Homo sapiens: one gene and its partners. The protein of the gene in region 3 interacts with the protein of the main gene of each other region in a pairwise test. Each region holds a gene or a part of one and is shown on either strand. Other genes may lie near its edges.

Region 1 (7,028 bases), on a different chromosome or scaffold from region 3:
ACAGGTGTCCCAGGGTTATAGGACCACGTCGTCATGTAGGACCACGTCGTCATCGGGGAGGGTCAGAGTCCCTAGGGTTGTGGGACCATATGGTCCTATATATAAATATATATATATATATATTTTTTTTTTTTGAGACAGAGTCTTGCTCTGTCACCCAGGCTGGAGGGCAGTGGCATAATTTTGGCTCACTGCAACCTCCGCCTCCCGGGTTAAAGAGATTCTCCTGCCTCAGCCTCCCTAGTAGCCGAGATCACAGGTGCGCACCACCACGCCCAGCTAAATTTTTTTATTTTTTAGTAGAGACAGGGTTTCTCCATGTTGGTCAGGCTAGTCTTGAACTCCTAACCTCAAGTGATACACCCGCCTCAGCCTCCCAAAGTGCTGGGATTGTAGGCATGAGCCACCATGCCCGGCCCATATGGCCATATCTGGGTCAGAGGCTGTGACCATGCCACACCCACAACAAGGACCACAGAAAAACCGCTCTTGCCAAGGACCTGATCAGTGCTCTCTCAAGTCTGGACCCTGAAACAGTCTTCCTATCATTTTCCACCAGGACAACTAGCCAGTGTGTCTGCCTTTTTAGAACACGTATATAAGCCGGATGTGGTGGCTCACACGTGTAATCCCAAGCATTTTAGGAGGCCAAAACAAGAGGATTGCTTGAGCCCAGAAATTTGAGACCAGCCTAGGTAGCAAAGCAAGACCCTGTCTCTATAAAACGTGAAAAAATTAGCCAGGCATGGTGGCGCACGCCTGTCATCCCAGCTACGAGGGGGGTTGAGTTGGGAGGATTGCTTGAACCCAGGAGGTTGAGGTTGCAGTGAATCATGATTGCGCCACTGCACTCCAGCCTGGGTGACAGAGCGAAACCATCTCAAAAAAGAATAATAATAAAAAAAAAAAAAAGGCCAGCGTGGTGGCCAGCACTTTGGGAGGCTGAGGTGGGTGGATCACAAGGTCAGGAGTTCAAGACCAGCCTGGCCAACATGGTGAAACCCCATCTCTACTAAAAACACACACACACACACACACACACACACAAAAAAAAAAATCAGCCGGGCGCGGTGGGAGGCGCCTGTAATCCCAGCTACTTGGGAGGCTGAGGCAGGAGAATCGCTTGAACCCGGGGGGCAGAGGTTGCAGCGAGCTAAGATCACGCCACTACACTCCAGCCTGGGCGACAGAGTGAGACTCTGTCTCAAAAAAAATAATAATAAAGTACACAAAAACTTAAAAATAAATAAAACACATGTAGACACCAAGCTTTTTGAACAAACAAGGCACAGTCGCTGGGCCAAGGGCTCAGAGCCTCTCTCTGGATCCTTCCAAACAGGCCACTCAACTCCACGGCTGCAACTCGTCCCTGGGCATGACGACGCCCCCCCACATGCCGGGGCACGTGTGGTGCCCGTTCTCTTCAGCCCCCAGGGGTGCGCCTGGGGCAGGTACCTACGCGCTAGAGACCTGCACGTCATGCCAGCTCCTGGACAGGTTCTGTTTCAGCTCCCCCAGGGTGGAGAGGCCCAGCCTCCTCTTGAGCTCTCCACAGTGCCTCTCCTTGGCTGCCAGGACCTGGCGCAGAGTGACAATTTCCTCTTCCACCTGCAAAGCATGCAGTTGACATGATGAGCCATCACTACTGCAGGAAGTGACTAACATCCTCATGCACAGTGCCATGAGTTACACAAGAACTTTCCGCTTACCAAAGCATTAACTCGTCCTAGGAATAACAGCATCTACAGCAGACATCTGATTTTTGGGTTTTGGTTTTTTTTTTTTTTTGAGATGGAGTTTCGCTCGTCGCCCAGGCTGGAGTGCAATGGCACGACCTCGGCTCACCGCAACCTCTGCCTTTCAGATTCAAGTGATTCTCCTGCCTCAGCCTCCCAAGTAGCTGGGATTACAGGCGTGTGCCACCCTGCCCGGCTAATTTTGTATTTTTAGTAGAGATGGGGTTTCACCATGTTGGTCAGGCTCGTCTCAAACTCCCAACCTCAGGTGATCCTCCCACCTCAGCCTCCCAAAGTGCTGGGATTACAGGCGTGAGCCACCGCGCCCAGCCAGCAGACATTTGTTTTTATCTGGTACTAGGAACTTGACTCCAGGGAACTATCCCATGCCCCACAACTAAATGGTTCTGGGAGAGCTACCAATCACCATGTCCATTTGTGGTCATGAGGAATGGCCCAGGATGACCATGCCAGGTTTGTCCGAGCTCTTTACTAGGACTGGGCATGGTATTAAAAAGGTGAAGACCGGCCGGGCGCAGTGGCGCATGCCTGTAATCCCAGCACTCTGGGAGGCCAAGGCGGGCGGATCACGAGGTCAGGAGATCGAGACCATCCTGGCTAACACAGTTAACACAGCGAAACCCTGTCTCTACTAAAAAATACAAAAAATTAGCCAGGCACGGTGGCGGGCACCTGTAGTCCCAGCTACTCGGGAGGCTGAGGCAGGAGAATGGTGTGAATCCAGGAGGCAGAGCTTGCGGGTGAGCCAAGATTGTGCCACTGCACTCCAGCCTGGGTGACAGAGCGAGACTCCATCTCAAACAAAACAAAACAACAACAACAAAAAAATGGTGAAGACCCTGGCCGGGCACAGTGGCTCACGCCTGTAATCCCAGCACTTTGTGAGGCCAAGGCAGGCAGATTATCTGAGGTCAGGAGTTTGAGACCAGCCTGGCCAACATGACAAAACCCCGTCTCTACTAAAAATACAAAAATTAGCCAGGTATGGTGGTGCACGCCTGTAACCCCAGCTACTCGGGAGGCTGAGGCAGGAAAACTGTTTGAACCCAGGAGACAGAGGTTGCAGTGAGCCGAGATCATGCCACTGCACTCCAGCCTAGGTGACAGACCGAGACTGTTTCAAAAACAAACAAACAAACAAAAAACAGTGAGGATCCTTTTCCCTCAGGGCTCTCAGTCTGGGCTTGGACAATAGAAGCTGGAACTGTTGGCAGCCGGGCACCGTCTGCACTCATAGAATTCCATATGCAGAGAGGAGGAGGCAGATGGACAGTGACACAGGTGACAGAAAAAAACACCCTTAAGAAAACACTTGTGTTCCTGAGGTCAGTTCCAAACCTTGGCAAGAGTCAGTTACACGAACCAAAAGGTAAATTATCTTTTGTGCTTAACGTAGTTAGAACTGAGCAACAGAAAGATTCCTGATCATGAAGACTTGAACTTTCTCAGGTCTTTAAAAAAAAAAAAAAAAAAAAAGAACATGACCTCTGAAAGGGGCATCATTCAAAGCTTTACCACTTTAGAATGAGTTCTCAGTATCTTCAGCTCATATATGACTAGCTTCTCTTTAAAAATTCTCTTTCTTGGCCGGGTACGATAGCTCATGCCTGTAATCCCAGCACTTTGGGAGGCCGAGGCGGGCAGATCACCTGAGGTCAGGAGTCCGAGACCAGCCTGACCAATATGATGAAAGGCCGTCTCTACCAAAAATACAAAAATTAGCCAGGCGTGGTGGCATGCACCTGTAACCCCAGGTACTCGGGAGGCTGAGACAGGAGAATCACTTGAACCTGGGAGGCAGAGGCTGCAGTGAGCCAAGATCGCACCATTCCACTCCAGCCTGGGCAACAAGAGCAAAAAGTCTCAAAAAAAAAAAAAAACTCTTTCTTGCGTGTAATCCCAGCACTATGGGAGGCTGAGGCAGGCAGATTACCTGAGGTCTGGAGTTCGAGACCAACCTGGCCAACGTGGTGAAACTCCGTCTCTACTAAAAATACAAAAATTAGCCAGGCATGGTGCTGTGCGCCTGTAATCCCAGCTACTCGGGAGGCTGAGGCAAGAGAATCACTTCAACTCAGGAGGTGGAGGCTGCAGTGAGCCCAGATCACGCCACTGCACTCCAGCCTGGGCGACAGAGTGAGACTCCGTCCTTAAAAAAAAAAAAATTCTCTTTCTTGGCTGGGTACAGCGGCTCGCATTTGTAATCCTAGCACTTCGGGAGGCTGAGCCAGGTGGAGCTCTTGAGACTCGGAGTTCGGGACCAGCCTGGCCAACATGGTGAAACTCTGTCTCTACTAAAAATACAAAAATTAGCCAGGTGTGGTGGCAGGCGTCTGTAATCCCACCTACTTGGGAGGCTGAGGCATGAAAATCACTTGAACCAGGGAGGCAGAGGCTCCAGTGAGCTGAGATCACGCCACTGCACTCTAGCCTGGGCGACAGAGCAAGACTCTGTCTCAAGAAAAACAACAAAAAAAAGCAATACAGAACTTCACCTTGTAGGGGCCGGGCACAGTGGCTCACACCTGTAATCCCAGCACTCTGGGAGGCCAAGGTGGGTGGATCACAAGATCAGGAGTTTGAGATCAGCCTGGCCAACATGGTGAAACTCTGTCTCTACTAAAAATACGAAAATTAGATGGGCAGGGAGGCACGCGCCTGTAATCCCAGATATTCGGGAGGCTGAGGCAGGAGAATCGCTTGAACCTGGGAGGCGGAGATTGCAGCGAGCCGAGATCACACCATTGCACTCCAGCCTGGGCGACAGGGCGAGACTCTGTCTCCAAAAAAAAAAAACAAACCCCATCTCGACTAAAAACACAAAAAAATTAGCCGGGCGTGGTGGTGGGCGCCTGTAGTCCCAGCTACTCAGGAGGCTGAGGCAGGAGAATGGCGTGAACCCGGGTGTTGGAGGTTGCAGTGAGCCGAGATTGCGCCACTGCACTCCAGCCTGGGCGGCAGAGACTCCGACTCAAAAAAAAAAAAAAAAAAAAAAAAACTTCACCTTATTGTAATTCAACTCTGAAAAAAACCTTGTGGATTTAGTTTCTAAACTCACATATTCTGAAGTTAAATGGAAAGCAAAGTGTCCTTGGACTTCCTGCTACTCTCCTTTAATCTTCTAGGCTAGAAATAGCTGTGTGATGTCCTCAGGATCTGAAACCTGGTCCTCAGACTCAGCGGCACAACCAACCTTACTCAGACCTAGGCCTGGACCCAGATTCTGGAATTAAACCACATCACAGGGTGAAAAGAAAACTCTTGGCAGTTGGTTTGACTAAAAATTATGGTTGGAGGCTTTTGTTCTTAATTCCTACATTACTCTTAAGGGACTCTCACTTAAAGAAGATCACATAAATACTTTTTAGAAAAGAAGTTTTTGTTTTGTTTTTGAGACAGGGTCTCGCCCTGTCACCCAGGCTGCTGTGCAGGATGCAATCACAGCTCACTGAAGCCTTGACCTCCTGGCCTCAAGCAATCCTCTCACCTCAGCCTCCTGAGTAGCTGGGACTACAGGCACATGCCACCACACCTGGCTAATTTTTGGGGGTAGAGACAAGGTCTCACTGTGTTGCCCAGGCTGCTCTCAAACTCCTGGGCTCAAGTGATCTTCCCACCTTACCACCCTGTCCTCCTAAGGCGCTGGAATTACAGGCATGAGCCACTGCATCCAGCCAAAATAAATATGTTTAAAAGAAAACTTAAGATCCAGGACAAGAAAGATTCATGGGGTCTTAAAAATGATTATCAAGTGTTAATTCCAACAGAGACACTCCCAGCAGATGGCTGCTCAGAGGCGGTTCATGTGTGAACACTCCTCAGGGAGCACTTAGGAAGGGCCAGGCACAGAGGTATGGGAAGGGAGTCATGCCCTGTCTCCACTGCCAGGTGGCTCTGAGTCCAGTGCATGGAGCTGGGCACATACAAAGAGAACCCCGTTATCAGTCGGAACACAGAGCAGGGTAGGTGACCACCCAGGGCAATTCCTCCCGAGCGTGGCCAGTACCCTGGCCTCTCACTAATCCAAGAGGGCCTTAACTCCAATTCACCCCAGGACAGACAGCCAAGCCACAGCACCTTGGTAAGCTCAGCCCTGAGCTCCTCCTCCTCAGCCTCTGTCAGACCCTCAACAGCAGGAGTCCGGGCAGCCACACCTGTGTCGACAGGAACATCCGTCATGGAGTCAGACAGCAGACCTTTGTTAGGAGAATTCAGGTTGATATCTGCCAGAGACAAAATGAGGCCACAAAGTGTCAAATAAGTTAGTTCCAAGTAAATACGGTAGAGGTCTCTAGCAGGACAAAAGCACAGGTGGGAGTGGGTGAGACCCTGGAGACTAACACCTCTTCTCTGAAAGGTCTGTGAGGACAGCATGGGCAGTAGACGAGGGCAGCCACACCTCAGACCACCTGAGCTGAAAAGCCAATGCCACTTGTGCTGCTTCAGGGCACGACAAATGCCGGCCCAAGGCAGGCAAACCCGAATTCTGGCTTCCCAGTGAGAATACTATCGTCAGAGGCAGGAAACCCTTGCTACAGAGAAAGCAGCTCAATCTAACAGACCTTCCACCTTTTTTTTTTGATGGAGTCTCACTCTGCCTCCCAAGCTGGAGTGCAATGGTGCGATCTCAGCTCACTGCAACCTCCGTCTCCCGGGTTCAAGTGATTCTCCTGTCTCAGCCTTCGAGTAGCTGGGATTACAGGCGCACGCCACCACGCTGGCTATTTTTGTATTTTCAGTAGAGACGGGGTTTCGTCATGTCGGCCAGGCTGGTCTCCAATTCCCGACCTCGGGTGATCCGCCCGCCTTGGCCTCCCAAAGTGTTGGGATTACAGGTGTGAGCCACCATACCCTGACAAATTTCCACTTTTTTTAAAAAAAGGAACCTAATATGGTTAATATACACAATAAGCATCACTTTCCTCTCAACACATCTGACAGAGCACATGCTAAAATTACGTACTAGGAGCACATGCTGCTCATTCAGCTCCTTCAGGGAGGCAGCAAAACAAAATTCCCTTTACTTACCTCCCGATTCTCATCCCACTGCCAGAAGGCCGCCAGCAGGCAGAGAGGTGCAGAGCGGTGTGCTGCCACCACACACCTCAACTACACCCAGATCACATTCAAATTCCTGCAGCCACTGTTTTTTCTTCATGTCAAATGCATCTTCCTGACTACCCTAAAAGTCTACAAGATTTCACATAAAGAAAAACAGTCTATTTCGATTCTCTCCAAATCCAAGCACATGACTATTGTAACACTTTCCCT
Region 2 (7,028 bases), on a different chromosome or scaffold from region 3:
CATTTTTCTTAGTGAGAAAAATACATGAATAGGCACTTCACAGAAGAAAATCTTTAAAAAGCATCTGAAAAGGTGTTCAACATACTATTCCCTCAGAAAAGTGAAACTAAAATCGAGTGATACCAACTAGGCACTTAACAGATGGCTAAAATTTAAAAGACTGATTAGTGCTAAGTGAAGACAAGTGGAACTCTTCTACCTTGCTGGTGAAAGCTGAAAAATGATACAACATTTTGGAAAACCGGCAGTTTCTACTAAAGCTAAACACCCACTCAATGACCCAACAATTCCACTTGCAGGTATATAACCAAGAGAAATGGATGCATGTGCATGCCAAAAACATGTATGGCAATATTCACAGCAACTATATTCACAAAAAGCAAATCCTTAAAACAACCCAAATGCTCACTCATTCATACAATGCAATAATACACAGAAAAAAAATTTTAAACCTGATTGCCTGCAACATCAATGAATCTCACCAATTCTTTGAGGAAAAGCCAAATACAAAAGACTTCATATTGAGACCACATACTATGATTCTACATGAATGAATTAAATGGGAAAAACTGGTCTATGATATGACATAAATCAAAATAGTGCTTATAGGTAGAGGCTACAGACTTCACAGGTACAGGAGGGAATCTCATGGCCTTTGGAAATGTTCTCTTGTTGATCTGAGTGATGACTACAAGGGTGTACAGTGGTCCCCACTTATGTATAGTTTCATTTTCTGTGGTTTCAGTTACCTGCAGTCAACTATGATCTGAAAATATTAATATTAAATGGAAAATTACAGAGATAAATAATTCATAAATTTTAAATTGCACATTCTCAGTATCATGATTAAATCTCCTCTTGTCTCTCTCTGTGCCCCCTGGGGCATGAATCATCCTTTTGTCCAGGGCATCCATGCTGTCTATGCTCCCCTCCCATGATCACTTAGTAGCTGATATGGTTTGGCGATGTCCCCACCCAGATCTCACCTTGAACTGTAATACCCATAATCCCCAGGTGTCAAGAGAGGGACCCCGTGGGAGATGACTGGATCATGGGGGCAGTTTGCCCCATGCTGTTCTCCTGATAGTGAGTTCTCACAACATCTGATGGTTTTATAAGGCAGTTTTTCCAGCTTTTGCTAGCTCTCTCTTTCCTGCCATCATGTGAAGAAGGTCTTTGCTTCCCCTTCATCTTCCGCCATGACTGTAAGTTTCCTGAGGCCTCCCCAGCCACGCAGAACTGAGTCAATTAAACCTCTTTTCTTTATAAAGTACCCAGTCTTGGGCAGTTCTTTACAGCAGTGTGAAAACGGACTAATACAGTAGCCATCTTGGTTATCAGATCAACTGTTCCGATATTGTGGTGGTTGGATTCAACTAATTCTTTTTACTTAATAATGGCCCCAAAGTGCAACAGTAGTGATGCTGGCAATTTTGATACACTGAAAAGCTGTGAAGTGCTTCCTTCAAGTGAAAAGGTTAAAGTTTTCAACTTAACAAGAAAAAAAATCATATGCTGAGGTTGCTAAGATCTACCATTAATAACATATTTTCTATTCCTGAAATTGTGAAGAAGGAAAAAGAAATTAGTGCCAGTTTTGCTGTTGTCCCTCAAACTGCAAAACTTATGGTCAAAGCATGTGACAAGTGTTTAGTTAAGATGGAAAAGGCTGAGATATGAACAGAAACATGTTCCAATTGAAAGCAATTGGGTGCCACACTATCCATGGTTTCAGGCATCCACTAGGGGTCTTGCAACTTATCTCCCTTGGATAAGGGGTTAGGGGGGACTACTGTATATATACATAAAAATCATTAAACTATACATTTAAGATCAGGGTACTATATGCATTTTATGTGATTCCTCAATAAAACAGATAAATAATAAAGCCATAACTCACAAGGACAAATAGGGAAGATGAAAAGTCAACAGTACTTGGTGTCAAAAAAGGAGGCAGACAAGTGAAAACTCCCAAAACACACTTGAGAAAACAGATGCTTTAAACTGTCAGTGGGAAAATCAGAGACGCAGCTGCACTTACGTCACATCAAGAACCTCCAAAGGCATAAGAATTGATGGAATTCAATCTTCCTATGGAAAGGAAGTAGACAAAGAGCTGAAAAAAGAGGACTGGTTGAAAGCCTATTTACAAATTAGCACCCTCAGATCTTTCCTACACCAAGCAATCAGGACGCTGTTTCTCTACAGCCCTGAAAGACTGAGTGCTTTGATCTAGAAGAGTGTAAAATAAAGTGAGGATAAGAAACTATCAGGCATGATTAAGGGTAAAAACCAAAAGCAGGGGGATTAAGTGAAATGTTACACATTGATTATTGAGACCCACAGCCTTCTTCCCCACAACTTGGTAATTAGAGTTTTGGCTGCCAGGTACCCCTCAAGAAAGGAGATTGGAAGTTATCTTCTTGAGGAATCTGATCATCACCAAGAAGAAAGACACAAAGAATAGTGACAGTGAGAGTTCCCTAAGGAAAACTGTCCAAGCAATTCACCGTTCAGAAGCCATAGTTGATAGGTTCCACCCATAGAATCTCAGATCAGCTTTCTAGTGCTTCACTCACACGCACACACTCACACACAGACACACACACAGCCCAGGATCACAAAACATGAGGCAAACATCCAGTATAAAGGATTAAAAGAAGAGCAATGTAATTTGGTTGAAATGGACAATGTGCAGGAAACGTAAAAAAAAAAACCCTATCATTTATATCAACATAAAGAAAAAGAAAATATCGCATCCATAAAATAAAAAGTGGGATGCGTGCATACTGAAAGAAGGATATTCGAGTGACAAAAGGAACTCCGGGAAATTAAATATTTAAAACGCAGGAAGGAAAAACTCAAGAAGGATGAGGTCATACAATTATAGAAAATGCCCAGAAAGCAGAGCAAAAAGACAGAGATGAAAAATAGGCAATAATAAATAAGAAAATTAGGACCCAGTCTATAAGGCATATCATTTGAATAATAAAACTTCTAGAAATATGTGAGGCTGAGGCGGGCAGATCACCTGAGGTCAGGAGCTCGAGACCAGCCTGACCAATATGGTGAAACCCCGTCTAAAAATACAAAAAAATTTCCAGGGCATCATGGCATGCACCTGTACCCCAGCTACTCAGGAAGCTGAGACAGGAGAATTGCTTGAACCCGGAAGGCAGAGGTTGCACTGAGCCGAGATCATGCCACTGCACTCCAGCCTGTTCACAGAGCACGACTCCATCAAAAAAAAAAAAAAAAAAAAAAAAACCAACCAACAAACAAAAAACCTCCTAGAAATAGAGAACAGAGAAAAAATAAGGGATGAAAGAATTAAAGAAATAATTCATAGAATTTCCTAGAATTGGAAAACATGAATTTCCTAATTTAAAAAGACCAACAGGTTGGGCACAGTGGCTGACACCTGTAATCCCAGCACTTTAGGAGACTGAGACAGGAGGATCGCTTGAGTCCAGGAGTTTGAGATCAGCCTGGGCAACATAGTGAGACCAGCTCTACAAAGAAAACATCAAAAAATTAGCCAGACATGCTGGCGCGTGCCTGTAGTTCCAGCTACTCAGGAAGTGAGGCAGGAGAATCACTTGAGTGCAGGAATTCAAGGCTGCAGTGAGCTATGATCACACCACTGTACTCCAGCCTGGGTTGAAAGAGCAAGACCCCATCTCTAACAAATAAAAGTAAATAAAAAAACCAATGGGCAAAAAATAAGAAAAAAAGGGGAGGCTGAGGTGGGCAGATCACAAGGTCAGGAGATCGAGACCACCCTGGCTAACAAGGTGAAACCCTGTCTCTACTAAAAATACAAAAATATTAGCCAGGCGTGGTGGCAGGCGCCTGTAGTCCCAGCTACTCAGGAGGCTGAGACAGGAGAATTGCTTGAACCCGGGAGGCGGACCTTGCAGTGAGCCGAGATCACACCACTGCACTCCAGCCTGGGCGACAGAGCAAGACTCTGTTTCAAAAAAATAAAAATAAATAAATAAATAAGAAAAAAAGATTTCACACCAAGAAACATACCATGACATTTTAGAACACTAAGCTCAAAAGGATCATCTTTAAAATACTTACACACAAAAAAAGAGAGAGAAGTAAGAGTGCTAAGGAACTTCTTAAAGGCAACAATAGAAGAAGGAAATTATACATTTAATTCATAATTCTGAGTAAAAATAGCTTCTAAACCCAGCCAAGTGATTGCTCAGTTATTACATCTTCTGTTTGCTGGGTACCATGTTTGATGAAAGGAATCCCAAGACTGATGATGAGTTTCCAAGATAACAATTAGGCAAACACTCCAGGGTGGAGTAGGAGACAACAGAAAAGAATTTTTTAAGAAAGTAAAACTGATAGAATACCTAATGTGATTGTAAGCTCTGAAAAAAGATCTACACAACTGTGAGAGTATTCAGGGTTCCATTAGTAATAATTAAAAACTAAGGATTAACTCTAGGGAAAATGATGTTGAGCAAGAAATAAAAAGTAATCATAATGTACTAAATGTTTCAGTTTTGATTGGTGTCATAATATACACAATGAATCTCAATATAAACAAAATTATGGTACAACCATATTGAAAGATGGGAAGATGGATGGATAAAAAGTTTATGTGCATGCGACAAAGGATGAAAGAGATAAAACTTCATCTTTCTCACTGAGAAGTTAATGGACAGTGCCTAAAACTGAAAAAGTGCCAATATATTCGCACTGTTTAGAGTACAAAAAAGACCAAAAGAATTGGGTAAGAAAAATGATACAAGCTGACTTTGGGAGGAAGGGGTAAGATTTTTCTTAAATCTATGTGTATGATAGAAAATTTAATTACTATTAAAAAAGTAAATGGAAGCTTTAGAGCAACTATGTCAAACAGAACTGTAATGCAAGCCACATATGTAATTTATACTTTTCTAATAACATTAAAAAGGTAAAAAACAGGTGAAGTTAATTTCAATGATAGTATCTTATTTATCCAAATATATCAAAAATATTATTTCAATATGCAGTTAATATAAAAACTTTCAGTTAAATATTTTAGCTTTCTTTTTTTTGGTATGAAGTCTTCAAAACTCAGTATGTGTTTTACACTGAAAAGATAGTTCAATTCCAACTAACCCCATTGCAAGTGCTCAATATCCACATGTACCTAGTGGCTACTGTCATTAGATGTGGCAATTCTTTTCCTGTGATCTCATGAAAACTTACGATAGAAGAATTTCACTGATATGAAACTATTTTAGCAGCAATCTACACTATGAAAGCACAGAAGCATCACAGAAAGCATTCATTAAAATTGGTCTAGCTTCCGATTAATAATATAACTATACTTTCTAACCTGAAGTGCCACTAGTCAGCCTTATTATGCAACAACTTCATGGTAGTCAACAGAATATATTCAGTACCCAATTTAGAAAATACCATATACAATTGACCATATACAGACCCACGTATTTGCTCTACCCCACAACCCCTATCAATATTAACAATCTCTTCTCCTGGAATACTATCCTGTTGTGTCATAAGATTGCCACATCTTTCCAAAGAAACCACAAGACAGGCATTTTGTATTTTATCTTCCTCAGGATACAAGGAGGCCCAGACTAAGGCAGCAGAAAGACAGCAGAGGTTAAATAGGCATCTGTGAGTTGATTGGGAGCTTCACCAGCATCATTAAATTTGTCCAAATGACTTGAACAGGGTCTTGAACAACACTGTGACTTGGCACCCACTTTTGTGCTACATACGATAGGACACCACTATCCCCACGCATCATTTAGAGTACTTAACATATGCTGGACAGTATGCTAGGTGTTTATCTCAATCCTTACAAACAATTCTTGATGCAATATTACTATTAGTACTACTTTGCAGAGAAGAAAATTGAAGTTTGCAAGCATTAATTGCCTTAGATCACCTGTTTTCTGAAAGACCCTGGAATTAAGAATTACTTTTACATTTTTTAAAGGTTATAAAAACAAAGAAGAATGTGCAACAGAGATCATACATGGCCCCAAAAGCCTAAAATATTTACTATCTGGCACTTAACAAAAAAAGTTTACTGACCCTGCACTAGTTTACAGAATTAAATAGTCTGATTCCAAAACAAATCCTCTAAATCAGGGTTTCTCAGTCTTGGCATGGTTGACATTTTGGGTTGGATAATGCTTTGTTAGCAGCATCCCTGATCTCTGTCCACTGGATGCCCATAGCAGCACCACCCCTCATCCCGGTTGTGACAACCAAAAACGTCTCCAGACATTGCCAAATGTACTTTGGGCAGCAAAATCGTCCCCCACTGAGAATTACCACTCTAAATGGTCTTCAAACTGGGGGATGTGTGCCCCCCAGGACAAATGAAGTCTTCCATGGGACATACACCAACGACATGTGTAATTTTAAGAAAAAGGCTTCCAGATCCTTTACTCCCATGAGTACTTCTCACTAAACTGATCTGCCTGAGAATATGCCCATTGTCCAGTTATCATGCTGATTTTTATTCCCCAAGATCCTTTCACAATCTTCCACTTTACAAAATAAAGGCATACTTCTCACCCACTCCTATTCTTACTATGGTACACTGCCCCAGGATGGAAAAGCCTCCCTACCAACAAACAATAAGTCGAAGGGCTCAAAGACCCTCCTTTAATTTAGGCACAACTCCCACTATCCATTCCATTAGGACACAGATTTCCAGTAAACTTCTACTCTTAATAATTATTATTCATTAAAATCCATCAAGTTTTTAAGCTATTCTAATCAACTATTTATAATAACTCAACCCAAAAGAAAAATTACAACTTACAGAATTAGTTATAGGAAATTTTTAAACTTAGCTTCAATTTATATAACTATTGTTATTAAAGCCATGTATCACAGAGATTAATAAAAAGCTTTCAAGCATAAAAATGCATTACCTTAAGATAATATTCTGTGGGGTGGGGGTGATAAAAAAGTAAAATTTTTTAAAAAAGGAAGTGTGTAAAATATAATGTATTTTAAAAATTGATGGTGATGGATAT
Region 3 (7,028 bases):
GGTTATTATCAACACCTTAAGCTGAAGGATCCTCTAGAATTCTATTCTTAGACTTCTGGTTACAATCTCCACTGAGGCTCCTGTTTAGGGGCTAGAAATAACAGCTTAAATAGCTTTTGTAAAGCCTTGGGTCTTTTTGAGAATGGTCTATAGCCAGCCCCTGACCTAGTGGGTAGAACCAAAAATAGCAGTTACAAAGCTATTGCCTAAGCCCATAAACTTGCAGTGTAGCTGGAGGACTGGGCACTGAGCAAAAGCAAACCCTGATCCCAAGGCCAGCTGGATAAACTATGCAACCTCATTCTTAACAGAGAACCCCGTAGTCTTTACAGATCCCTGAAGATTCTAAGCAACAGACCTCCTACTAGACTTTTACATGTTCAAAGTCTACCACCAATGGCTAGATAAAATAACTCCCAGATAAAGTGACCAATAGGAAGGGAAGAAAGGGAATACCTTTCACTCAGGTGAACATCACCTATAAAGAGTGATCTAAAAAAAATTCACTTAGCCCCTTAAAAATTGAAACTGCATGCATAAATTTCCCTTTAATAAGCAAGTTTATCCATTTGTTTGTTCATTTTGTTTATTCCTTCAACAAATACTTATTAAGCACCTACATATGTGCTAGGCACTCTTCTAAACACATGGGTTTCAGCAGCCAACAAAACATATAAGGTTTCTGTTCTTAGGAAGCTTACATTTTAATGGCAAAGACAGACAATAGATAAATAAATAATCTGATAATAAGGATATAAAGATATGAAGATGGTAAAGCGGACCAACATGGTTGGTTTGTTTCTGAGTGACATACAAATCCAAGTACAGAGAAAGAATTCATTCTTCAGGGAGAGGAAGAGGGAGAGCAGGAGAATCAGGGAAGGCTTCAGTGGGGGAGGGATGGGCAACTTGGGCCTAGAAAGGGGAGCAGGAGTTTGAGGAGTGTGAGATGCGGGTAGTTAGAGAAACAGCATCTCTGAGTAGGTAACAAACGACCTGTGACTGAATGATATGAACTATGTTAAGATCTAAGGAAAGAGTGTATAGTCCTGATGATTTATCTTCCAGTTGCACAATTTCTTTAAGCTCATTAGCATCACCCTCACACATATTAAATATTAATTTCTCTGTGGAAATCCTTAACTTATAGTTAATAACCAAGAATAGATTAATAGAAAAATCAACAGATCAATAATTCAAAATCAGTACTTATGGCCAGGAGCAGGGGCCCCCGCCTGTAATGTCAGCACTTTGGGAGGCTGAGGCAGGCAGATCACTTGAGCTCAGGAGTTCTAGACCAGCCTAGGCAACATGGCGAAACCACGTCTCTACAAAAAAATCCAAAAAATTAGCCAGGTATGGTGGTGCACACCTGTAGTCCCAGCTGCACTCCACTGCACTCCATTCTGGGTGACACAGCAAGACCCTATCTCTAATTAATAAGTTAATAATAAAATAAATAAATATAAAATAAAATAGTCACTGAATTTATCTGATACAAACTGGGGTTCAGGGCAAGTTTTCTCCCGACAGTATTTCAGGAAAATCAGCAATTAGAAAGTTAATTATTTGGAAAATAAAACACTTCAATCTTCAGGTAAAAAGGCCTGTTTGCTTAATTATTTAACATTTTCTTTGTGACTCTCATGATACTACCTCCCAGGTATCTCAATAAATATATATTCTTTTTGAAAAGAGTATGAAAGTATAACAGAGCAAAGATGGGTATTTGCACCAAGTGATTTATTTGTATGAGTCTGAGGAAGAAAGAAAATATGTTAACTGATAAAGATTCTACAAACACACACAATTAGTAGGTTTTTTTTTTTTAACTATTTTAGTTCAGAAGATACATGGAACCCTTACACATGAGTGAGACAGTCTAATTACAGAAAACCTGTTTAGAAAATAGCAGTACTGTAGGGTCACATGACAATGTTTCTATGTTTCACATTTCAGCACATCCATTTACATCTTTCTCATACTTCTGTGTCAAGGCTTAGTGTATGTTCAAAAATTCCATTAACTAAGCTGTGCATTCTACAACAAATACTCGAAAGAATCTTAAAATAAAGTAAGAATAATTGTAGAGATTAATAAATTGAGACTCAGGGTGATTAAACACTTTGTCCAAGGTGTCATTGTTGGGATTCAATCTCACATCTGTTTGAGTCATAGTCTTATCATGCTATACTACCCTTCCAGTAAATACTTGCTGATTTCCAAAATTAGTATTTTCTATTTCTATTACTATTATCCAATCATATTCTGTGCTTCCTTTCTCCTATGTCTGTTCGCAGCACTCTGGACAGCTTTCTCCCCCAGATCACTTCTGCTTTCTACAAGATATTCAATAATTATTCACCAAAATTAGTAAACTAAATCCTATCATGAATGAATAAAAGGGAGGAAGACACACAATAAGGACATTGCTAATGCTATCATATTTTAAAATTGAAATTATAAATTTAAATCTTATTACTTAAATATATAATTGTAAAAGACATAATATTTCCCAAATTTTATCATTGGTGGAAGCAAAAGGATTTTTCCATAATTAATCAGAAGTACACTTTATTAAGATAACAAATACAATATTTAATACATTTTCTCTAAAGCACTGTAAATAATGCGTCTACTACAGACACTAGGAGTCATCTCAACTAAATTAATATTTAAATTACTAATCAAAAATATTTATGGCTTCTACAGCAAGATGATCAGCATCTGATGTACTTCTTGCCCTCAAGGATTTTATGATCTACTAGGAGAATACTGCCTTGACTCAAACAAAATTATAATAATGGCACCTTTTCAGAAGGGCAAAAGACCTATTAATTCTTTCTTTTAAAAAAAGATCCCTTTCCTAGTTACCAAAAAATTTTAAATTAACCCATAAAAATTTTAGTTTTCAACATCTTCAAGTCAAAAATCATTACTGATTTTGTAATCTCTTGATAATAGGTATTAATGAGAAACTAGTTGATTTTAAGCATATCTTTTAATGAATAGATGGCAGTATAGTTTAATAATTAAGAACTTTTGTGTAAACAACCTAAAATAAAAGGCAAACTGTAAATAAGCATCTTCTTAGTAAGTCATTAAACTCAATGTTTTCTAAAATATAATTTGATACCTAATTTTTTCATATTTCATTTGTAATATGGCAAAGTGGCATAAGAATAAAAGTTTAATCCCCTTTTATATATTTTCTCTAAATATTGCTTTGCGGAAAGAATTGTCTTTGAGTCGGCTACATTATACCAGGCACTGTAATCCTTCTTTTACTACAGGATAGGCATATAACCCACATTATTAAATAAGGAGCCTGGATTCCAAACTCTACTTTTAGAAAAAAAAAAGACTACAAATAAAATGGGTGTGTGATCAAAGACATCTATTTAATGCAAACTCTAATCACCAGTATTACTAAAGGGTAATACTCTAAAAGTAATTTAAATTTCTTGGAAAATATGTAACACAGATTCTGAATAATGTATTAGTAAACTGTAAGGTGCATCTTTCTCCATTGGTTCCCAATTTTGGCTGTTCTTTAGAATTACTTGAGGGAGCTTTAGAAAACACTGATGTCTGGTCTGATCCAACCCCTAAGATTCTAATTTAATTGGACTGGGGTGTAGCTCATATATTGGCATTTATAAAGATTCCCCAAGCATTTTAAGTGCAGCCAAGACTGAGAACCACTGTTCTAAACTCATTCATAACTATTTAAATATGTATCGCTTGGTTTAGTGCATGCTGCATTACTTTACTTTCCTCTTTGGCCCATTTAGGAATTTCAGCTGTTATTACTGTTACTTCACTGTGCTGGAGTTTTGCTTCAAATATATTAACTGTGTTGAGGTTCTTTCAGTAAGCTGGTCTCCAAAGAATATTAAAGTAATTGACTTAGGTGTTTGATCATTTTAAATATAGTAGCAAAGCAACTAGGAGTACATCAGTTGGGTGTGGTTAAGAGTTTAGGATTAATTTGTAGCTCTGTCATTACCTTAAAAATACTTTCAAGAAAGGCCAGGCACGGTGGCTCATGCCTGTAATCCCAGCACTTTGGGAGGCTGAGGCGGGTGGATCACCTGAGATCAGGAGTTCGAGACTAGCCTGGCCAACATGGTGAAACCCCGTCTCTACTAAAAATACAAAATTTAGCCGGGCACGGTGGCGCGTGTCTGTAATCCCAGCTACTAGAGGGGCTGAGGAAGGAGGATAGCTTGAACCTGGGAAACGGAGATTGCGGTGAGCCAAGATCGTGCCACTGCACTCCAGCCTGGGCAACAGGGCGAGACTCCGTCTCAAAAAAAAAAAAAAAATTCTTTCAAGAAATATGATGAATTTAAAAGAGTTTTATAGATTTTCTAATTACCTTACTCATGTAGTACATAAGTGTAAATTTTAACATCAGGTTAACAAACTATCTTCTATCTATTTTACTAAAGTAATGCAAATAGCACCAAAGGATGTGAAAACAGTTTTAAGTAACACTAAACATGTAGAGTTTTTATATAACAAGAAAATGTATGGATTTCGAATGTGACATATTTTATTTATTAGAATTTAAGAAACATGGTGAAGTTGTCACGGTGTGAATTCTGTAAAAGAAATAGGATTTCAGAAGTGCTTGAGAGAGTTGTTTGGCCAAACTGAAACTCCAGGGAGGGTCTGACAGGAGCTATTGAACGGCAACATCATATTCATCTTTACATCCTTAGACACACCATGACACTTGCTGAAATAAATGGGAGATCAAGGCCAAGCTCAAAACTATATTTTAAGAACTATATTCCTTAGAAAATAGCTGGTGTTCACGAATTTCATAGTATGACTTTAATAATCAGTTTAGAGGAAATGTTAGAAAATTAAAATGAACTCCCTCCCTAAGTAATTTGATTTGAAAAATTCTTTTTAGAAAGTCTTTGCTCTTATTTTAATGATGGTGAGCAAGGTTTTGCTTCAATAAGAATTCTGAGTTAAAAACACATCTCTTGTTCCTTTATCCACTTGAAAGATTTATCAAATAAAGTTATTCACAAAATGGCTATTTAGTACAAATAAGATTTATGACAAGTTTGAGACTATTATTATGAAGTCTCTGAGGGCAGGAACAGGGTCTCATTCAGCTTTGTATCTTTCAACGCCAAGCACCTAGGAGGTACTCAATTTATACTGGTATTAGTTAACTTCAAGGTCCGCAAACAATGTTAGAAAATACTAATAAAGATACTGTTATTTAACATGCTTATTGTTGCCCTTCAAAGATTAAACTTCACATATGGATGGTAATTTGCCTGGCTAAAATGATATAAAAGATGAACCATGTTAGATGTTGTAAGAGGGGAATAAGAAACAGAGTTGATGCCTTAGCACATACAAACTTATTAAAGAAAGTCAGAGTAACAGAACTTTAGAGTTCCAAGAGATCTAACATAACAGTTCATTAGAAGAAAAGTGCCACCTCATCATTTGGAATTGAAAATGATTCACGATTTCACAGCAAGCTCTTGTGGTCTAAGAAGCCTTATCAGCTGAGATGGATTTGAAGCTATATCTTTAAAAAAAGTTTATTTTACTTTTATTTTAAAATTTTTTTTACTCTCTCCATTTTGGAGATGAATAAAGTTGTATCTTAAGGAAAGGAAAGAATAGGCAGACAGGACACTTAAGAGGAGTCTAACCATATGAACAAAAGCCTAAAATAAGTAGAAGATATTTTGGAAATTAAAAAATAATTTGGAATACAGTGTTTATATAAGTGAGAGAAAGGACCAGATTGTAAGGGAGTATTTAATGCTCAACTAAGAAGTTTGGACTAAAAAGATGGATTCTAAGAATAAATGGCATTTAAAACTCTAGTAAAATAACAATTAAGCAAGGGTGAATTACCTGATACTTTTGTATTTTACCATCTTGAGGTACTTAAAAACAAGCACCCAAATGGGCTAGTTAAGAATAAACATTCCTACTCATTTATACATTCTAGTCTAACATTCTTTTTAAAGTACCAAGGCTTATAAACAAATTTTAAAAGGAGGGAAGTGGAGTGGTGATGGGACGCATCTATGTGCTTTACTAGTTTGAGCTGACCTTTTTTTAAAACAAGAAACATGTTTAATTTTTAACTTAGAAATTTTTAAGTAAAATGGAAAACAATGTATGGCGTTGGCCAACCAAAGAATGGCATATTCCTTACGGTACAATTTGATTTGAATGAAAATTATTATTTATAAACGTGAATGTTTCTCTCTCTACTGTTCTTACTGCTTATAAAGAGATATTGGCATAGCTCTTAAGCTATTCTTAGCATGAAACTTGGTACTTTGGCATTATACTGATGTCAATGCAATTTAATGTAGGAACTCAGTGATGAAATAAATACTGAGATGAGAAAGCAGTGTTTTGTTGAAAACTACCACACAGCATTCCAAATTTCACATGTTCTATTTTAGAAGCATCCTTTTTTTCTTACAAATTTTATCTTTAAAAAAGTATTATGGAAAATGTCAAACATACAAAAGTATAACAGTATAATGAAACCTCATGAACCCATAACCAACCTTCCACAACTATCAACATTCCGTTGCTGTTGTTTCAGCGACTTCTGTTTTTTTCTTTTGAAATATTCAAACGCTAATCTCAACTGGTGTGGTGGCTCACACCTGTAATCCCAGCACTTTGGGAGGCCGAAGCAGGTGGATCCTGAGGTCAGGAGTTCAAGACCAGCCTGACCAACATGGTGAAACCCCATCTCTACTAAAAATGCAAAATTAGCTGGGCGTGGTGGAGCCTGCCTGTAATTCCAGTTACTTGAAAGACGGAGGCAGGAGATTGGCTTGAATCGGGGAGGCGAAGGTTGCAATGAGCTGAGATCGCGCCATTGCACTCCAGCCTGGGCAACAAGAGCCAAACTCCATCTCAAAAAAAAAAAAAAAAAAAAATACCCTGTAAAAACCAAATCTCAGATATGATATAAGTTTATCCATAAACATTTCAGTATGTATCTCTAACAATTACAG
Region 4 (7,028 bases), on a different chromosome or scaffold from region 3:
CTTATATTCTTCTTTACTCCACCTATTTTGTAACATCTGAAATATTTTATTAAAAGACTAAAAAAGAAAACAAAACTCAAAACCTCAATAAAACAAAAACTATGACAGAATCAGAGACCTCTTTGTAGCAATTTGTTTACTTTTCTCCATAAATGTAGAGGATGGACGTGCAGTTAACAGGTCTGATTAGCTTCCTGGTCAACCCCCTAGTTTGCTAATTCAAAAGGGCTATGGCATGAAGAATGTCTTGTCTCCCACTCTAGTTACTTTCTCAAGCAATGCTTCCCTGTCCCCCCAAAATTCTGATACCCATCCATCTCTGCCACAGTGACTCACTGACACCCCTGAGAATGTTGGATTTTCTCAAGTGTGTTGACATAGAAAAATATATTGACAACTGTCTATTTGGAAGCATTCTTAAATTCTCTAACTGTAACAGGCTAACTTGATAAATTCTAGTCATTGGATTTGCTGTCACATTAGTAAGGTGGATGGTAGACGAGTTTTCATTATATGGGGAAAAGGGCCTAGAAGTCAGAGATGCCTCAAGAAATGTTAGGCTGGTTTTTTGTTTGTTTGTTTGTTTTACAGGATGTCACTCTGTCACACAGGCTGGAGTGCAGTGGCACAATCACAGTTGACTGCAACCTCAACCTCCCAGGCTCAAGTGATCCTCCTACTTCAGCCTCACGTGTAGTTGGGATGACAGGCACGTGCCCCCACGCCTGGCTAATTTTAAAATTTTTTGGTAGAGATGGTGTCTCCCTGTGTTGCCCGGGCTGGTTTCAAACTTCTGGGCTCAAGCTATCCTCTCACTTCAGCCTCCCAAAGTGCTAGGATTATAGGCATACGCTAACACTACCAAGCCCTTTAAAAGGTCTTGATAGGCTATAGATATACAACTTCGTTTATGAATTCAGAGAGAGTACTGAATTGGTGAAGTCATTGAATTAGACATGAGGAAAATAGCAAATACTAAAAATTCATAGATACTTTACCCAAATCTTAGTGCCCATCTAAGAAGCGCAGAACAATATTCTAAGAATAAGAATGATATTCAGGATGTCTCATGTCACCATCCAGTAAGTCACATGATAGTTGCCCCTAGAATCCTTTAGATACAGTAATAATGCATGTCTTTTCATCATTAACTTACTTTTCATCATTAGGAAAGATTATTTTGTCTTTTCTCAGGGCATCCATAAGTGTACGTAAAAATCCTGGAATGTTCCGGTAAATCTATTTTTAAAAAAGAAAAAAAAATTAATATTTGCCCCATAGCTATGCCATCTGTTATATAGTCTTTCACTATGAACCAGGGTAACACAGAGAGTAGTGCTTCTCTAAGTAAGGTAAACTTCACAAAAAACTTCTACGATTTAAAAAGTAATGCACGTCGGGAATTTGGAAAAAAAGAAAGGAATGTAGAAGAAACAAAGCACACATAATTCTGCCATCATAGACCATCATTGTTAACATTTTGTTTTCACTTCCTAAAAATGGCACAACTAACTCTTACTTCTCCATGTAGAAGCAGTGGTATGCAAAACCTAAAATTGCTTCTATTGTGAACATAACTGGTTTAGTTGGTGGACAGAATATTCTGATTAGTCAAAAATTCTGATGAAAATATACAATACATAGAAAATTGATTTTAGAGAATTTGAACATTACAAACTTTTGAATATGATTTAATATGCCAATGCCTTAAAAGACATTTTAGTTTTTAACAATGACCACAGGATTCCAGATATAACAATGCTCACTCTAGACATACTAAATTTGTTGTTTAATAGCAAAATCCAAGAAATAGAATGCTAGCTAAATCCACTTTTACAATGTTTTGACTCACATAGTCAACATGTAAGTTAGTTTATATGCCCTAGAAATATCCGTTTTATCTGGAAATAAGGAGTAAAGGATAAAAATCCTGAGCAATATTGCACCTTTCTCACAAACTTTGAATCCTGCCTCCAAAACTATATCCTAAACCCATTCATTTCTCCCCATCCCCACTATCACTTAGCCTAAGCCACCCTTCATCTCTTGCTTATACTAAGCTGCAATTCCAAGTGGCTCCCCGATTCTGCCTTCACCCTTCCATAATCCAGTTCCCACAGGAAAACCAGAATGATTATTTTAACGTGCAAATCAGATCGTAGCACTCTTTCGCTTAACACCCTCCAAAGGCAATTGGATTAAACCTGAACATGTCACCTTGGCCTCCAAGGCCCTGAAGAATCCGGCGGCTTCCTGCCTCCCTCTCCAGCCTCATCTCCTATCACTAAGCACCTTCCTGTCCACCTCCTGGCTCTGCTGCCTTCTGCTTCTGGAACATGTCAGGCCTGATCCCACCTCAAGGCGCTTGCCTTTACTTTTACCCCAGCCTGAGATCTCTATATTTTCCCATCAGCTGGCTTCATCTCAGGCAGGTCTCAGCTCAGATGCTATTTCTTCGGAGCTGTTTTCCATAACCAGCTACCAAACCTTGCCCCCACCACCCAGTCATTCTCCATCACATTATTTTGGTGCTTTCACAGAACTTCTCACTATTGGATTTCTTTTTTAATGTATTTATCTTCTATCTGTTTCTCCATCAACAATATGAACTTCGTAGGTAAATGGACCACAACTTTCTTATTCCCTGTGGTGTCCTCAAAAACTAGAAAAGTTCCTGGTACATAATAGACACTTCATAAATATTTGCTAAAGACAAAATGAGTCTATTGTGCAAATATCCCTGGCGTACACTTTGTTATTATCTGTCATTTTCATTTAGTATGATTGAATTTCAGATATTACTTATTTTATTTATTTGTTTGTTTATTTTGAGACAGGGTCTCAGTCTGTTGCCTAGACTGGGAGTGGGTGCAGTGGCATGCTCATGGCTCACTGCAGCGCTCAAACTCCTGGGCTCAAGCAGTCCTCCCTCCTCAGCCTCCATAGTAGCTGGGACTACAGGGGTGTGCCACCACACCCAACTAATTTTTTTGTACAGAAGGGGTTTCACCATGTTTCCTAGACTGGTCTTGAACTCCTGGGCTCAAAGCCATCTTCTGGCCTTGACCACCCAAAGGGCTGGGATTACAGGCATGAGCCACAGTGCCTGGCCCAGATTTAAATTTTTTTTTTCTTTTTTTTTTTTTTAGACAGAGTCTCACTCTGTTGCCTAGGCTGGAGTGCAGTGGTGCAATCTTGGCTCACTGCAACGTCTGCCTCCTGGGTTCAAGCAATTCTCCTGCCTCAGCCACCCAAGTAGCTGGGACTACAGGCATGCATCACCACGCCCAGGTAATTTTGTATTTTTAGTAGAGATGGTGTTTCGCCATGTTGGCTAGGCTGGTCTCGAACTCTGACCTCAAATGATCCGCCTGCCTCAGCCTCCCAAAGTGCTGGGATTACAAATCTTTGCAATAAATTTGCAAAGAGGAAAAATAAGCAAAGTATTATACATTTTCGTGTTGTGCCTGAGAGAGGAGGGGTAGAGGGGGTAGTAAATGGGACATGGCCAAGAGAAGGAAATAGGCACAGAATAGGGAGGTTGGACCCAATAAATACAAACTTCTGCTTCACAATTTTTTAAAAAGAAAAAGAAATTAAAACTTGCCCCATGGCTATAATGTCATTTGTTAATAGTCTCCTACTATGAACTGTAATAATAGAATAGAGACTTTCTAAATAGAATAAACTTAAATACAATTTTTCTGATTTTAGAAAGTAATTGATGTCATTTTAGGGAATGTGGTAAGGAAATGGGTATAAAATAGGTAAGCCAGTGCCACTAAATACAAATTGCTGCTTCATAGTTCTGGCTTAGGCCTGCTATTCCCCCAGGAATCTCCTTGGTTTTTGGTTTTATTTTGTTTTGTTTTTTTGAGACGGAGTGTCATTCTTGTTGGCCAGGCTGGAGTGCAGTGGCACGATCTCGGTTCACCGCACCTCCGCCTCCCGGGTTCAAGTGATTTTCCTGCCTCAACCTCCCGAGTAGCTGGGATTACAGGCACCTGCCACCATGCCCAGCTAATTTTTGTATTTTTAGTAGAGACAGGGTCTCGCCATGTTGGCCAGGCTGGTCTTGAACTCCTGACCTCAGGTGATCCACCCGTCTCGGCCTCCCAAAGTGCTGGGATTACAGGCGCCAGCCACCGTGCCCAGCTGGAATCTCCTTGGTTCTGTGGGATTTGTCTGGCCTGAACTTTTTGGCCTGGTCTCATAGCAACTGATCTGCATTCAGGTGTGCTCTGGACTTCCTGACACAGCCTTTCCTTCTCTTTCTTCTCCCTCCTCTTCCATGCTAAGGGCAAGATTTCTTGTTTTGTTTTCTCTTTTGTCTTCTGGTACTCTCACCCCTGGAATTAAGACTCCCCTGAGGAGAATTCAGTAAGAGAAGTCCTTCAGCAATTCATCTCAAATTCTGAAAGAGTAGGAAGAAAGCAAGCCCCGGTCAATCTACTCTCATTATTCCTCATTCCCTTCCAGCCAGGAGTGCCCTTTGAGACTCACAGGTCATACCTTCCCCTCCAGCCTAGACCATGGCAATGGGCTCTCCTAATTGGTCTTCCTACCTTCCTCTCTCTTCTGTAACACCACCAGATAAACATCCTTAAAATACCAGTTATATTAAATCTGCTGTTACGAAGCTTTGGGCATGCCACACTATCTACTGAAAACAACAACTAGACAGCAAGCCCATGCACATCTGGCCACAATCTTTCATTCCAAACCCTGCTCACCTCCAGTCTATCTGCCTGCAATTAGAAGATGTAGGTTTGAGTCTCATTTCTTCTTCTTATAAGATATGTGACAATTAGGCAAACCTATAGGTCTCCATTTCTCTCATCTCTAAGTGGAAGCAATGATGACAAACTCAGAGAGTTGCTGTGAGGATTTAAAAGAATAACGAGTGCGAAAGACTTGTGTGGAAGTCCTCTATTAACTCTCAGGCAGTTTATAACGTAGAACAGCCCCATTCCTGCCAGGGGTCTGAGTTAACATTCACCTGTTCCTCGCTCTGTTTCCTAACTGCTTTCCCTCACCTTCAAGAAAGAAGCTTAGGTCCAATAGGCTCTGAAGTCTTCATTGGCCACACCTGTGAGCAAAGCCTCTCTCTTCAGTAATTCTCCCTGCCTTGAATTCTCCCTGCCTTTTCCTGCCATACATAACACTTTAGCCTAATTTGTAACAGAAAGAGGGACGGAAAGGAACAAGTATTTGTCTAGTGCTTACTAGCAGCTGGGTACTTTACATACATTATCTTACTTAATTCAGTCTTCACAACAACCCTGTGCAGTGGTCTTCGCCAACCCCTTGGTAAAAAAATGGGAAAACTTAGGGAGAAACAATTTACCAAGGTCACAAAGGGTATGTGGCCAAGGACAGATTTGAACCCAAGTCTGAGTGGCTCCACAGCCCATACTCTTTTCCACAACATCATGCTGCCTTTCAATTCTGAGTAACAAAACTGATTCCAAAGAGACCCGTAGAAATCCCTGTTAACTTTATACCTCCTATTTATGTCCTGTTGAGATCAAGTGATAGAAAAACCTATACCATGCAAACACTAATCAAAACAAAGATATACAAATATTGGACAAAGTTGACTTTAAGTCAAGAAGCAATATTGATCACAAAAAAGGTGGACATTTTATGATGAAAATGATAAATCCACCTGGAAGATATGAAAACTAAATCATAGGCTGGGAATGGTGGCTCATGCCTGTAATCCCAGCAGTTTGGGAGGCTGAGGCAGGTGGATCACCTGAGGTCAAGAGTTTAAGACTAGCCTGATCAACATGGTAAAACCCTGTCTCTACTAAAAATGCAAAAAATTAACCAGGTGTGTTGGCACATGCCTGTAATCCCAGCTACTTGGGAGGGTGGGGCAGGAGAATAGCTTGAACTCAGGAGGCAGAGGTTGCCATGAGCTGAGATCACGCCACTGCACTCCAGTCTGGGTGACAAGAGTGAAACTCCATCTCAAAAAAAAAAAAAAAAAACTAAACTAAATCATAATATTATTAGGCTTATGTACCTAACAACATAACCTCAAAAAAACTAAAACAAAAATTAACAGTACTAAAATAGAAATAAACCATTCCACAATCATGATGAGGTACTTTAATAATCCTCTTTGAGTAACTGAAAAAGCAAGCAGTCCAAAAAACCAGTAACAATAGACAAAATTTTTTCATGCGCGTCTGTGTGAAGAGACCACCAAACAGGCTTTGTGTGAGCAACATGGCTGTTTATTTCACCTGGGTGCAGGCGGGCTGAGTCCGCAAAGAGAGTCAGCCAAGGGAGATAGGGGTGGGGCCGTTTTATAGGATTTGGGAAGGTAATGGAAAATTACAGTCAAAGGGGGTTGCTCTCTGGTGGGCAGGGGCGGGGGTCACAAGGTGCTCAGTGGGGGAGCTTCTGAGCCAGGAGAAGGAAATTCGCAGGGTTAATCACTCAGTTAAGGTGGGGCAGCTTCTGAGCCAGGAGAAGGAAATTCACAGGGTTAATCACTCAGTTAAGGTGGGGCAGGAACAAATCACAATGGTGGAATGTCATCAGTTAAGGCAGGGCAGGGCCTTTTCACTTCTTTTGTGATTCTTCAGTTACTTCAGGCCATCTGGGCGTATATGTGCAAGTCACAGGGGATGCGATGGCTTGGCTTGGGCTCAGAGGCCTGACATTCCTGCCTTCTTATATTAATAAGAAAAATAAAACAAAATAGTGTTGAAGTGTTGGAGCGGTGAAAATTTTTGGGGGGTGGTATGGAGGGAGAATGGGCGATGTTTCTCAGGGCTGACAGGTAAAACGGGGGAATTGTAAGGAGAGTTTATAGGCTTTAAAAGGCCATGCTGTAGCAGGTGAGTGATAACAGGCTTTAATCTTTTTAAAGCATGCTGCAGGACGGGATATTGGCGTTGAGTGGGGTAAGGGTGATTAGGTTTTAATGAGATGGTAAGGGGTGCATGATCGGTCACCAAGGAGGGAGTAGAGGTATCTTATACTTGTGGGTTAAGGTCGGGGGATACAAGAGG

Evidence for each region.
Region 1: the proteins of SH3GLB1 (region 3) and TPD52L2 interact in binary tests that used the Homo sapiens proteins (3 or more experiments, as listed by UniProt).
Region 2: the proteins of SH3GLB1 (region 3) and SPART interact in binary tests that used the Homo sapiens proteins (3 or more experiments, as listed by UniProt).
Region 4: the proteins of SH3GLB1 (region 3) and ABHD12B interact in binary tests that used the Homo sapiens proteins (3 or more experiments, as listed by UniProt).

Annotation. Positions count from the first base shown.
Region 1 is NC_000020.11:63,868,248-63,875,275, reverse strand, and holds part of TPD52L2 (tumor protein D54), read right to left. Parts: intron 5,981-7,028; coding exon 5,835-5,980; intron 1,609-5,834; coding exon 1,460-1,608; intron 1-1,459.
Region 2 is NC_000013.11:36,336,386-36,343,413, forward strand, and holds part of SPART (spartin), read right to left. Parts: intron 1-7,028. UniProt on the Homo sapiens protein: Lipophagy receptor that plays an important role in lipid droplet (LD) turnover in motor neurons.
Region 3 is NC_000001.11:86,707,567-86,714,594, reverse strand, and holds part of SH3GLB1 (endophilin-B1), read right to left. Parts: intron 1-7,028. UniProt on the Homo sapiens protein: May be required for normal outer mitochondrial membrane dynamics. Required for coatomer-mediated retrograde transport in certain cells. May recruit other proteins to membranes with high curvature. May promote membrane fusion.
Region 4 is NC_000014.9:50,896,040-50,903,067, reverse strand, and holds part of ABHD12B (protein ABHD12B), read right to left. Parts: exon of another isoform or gene 6,228-7,028; intron 1,240-6,227; coding exon 1,157-1,239; intron 1-1,156.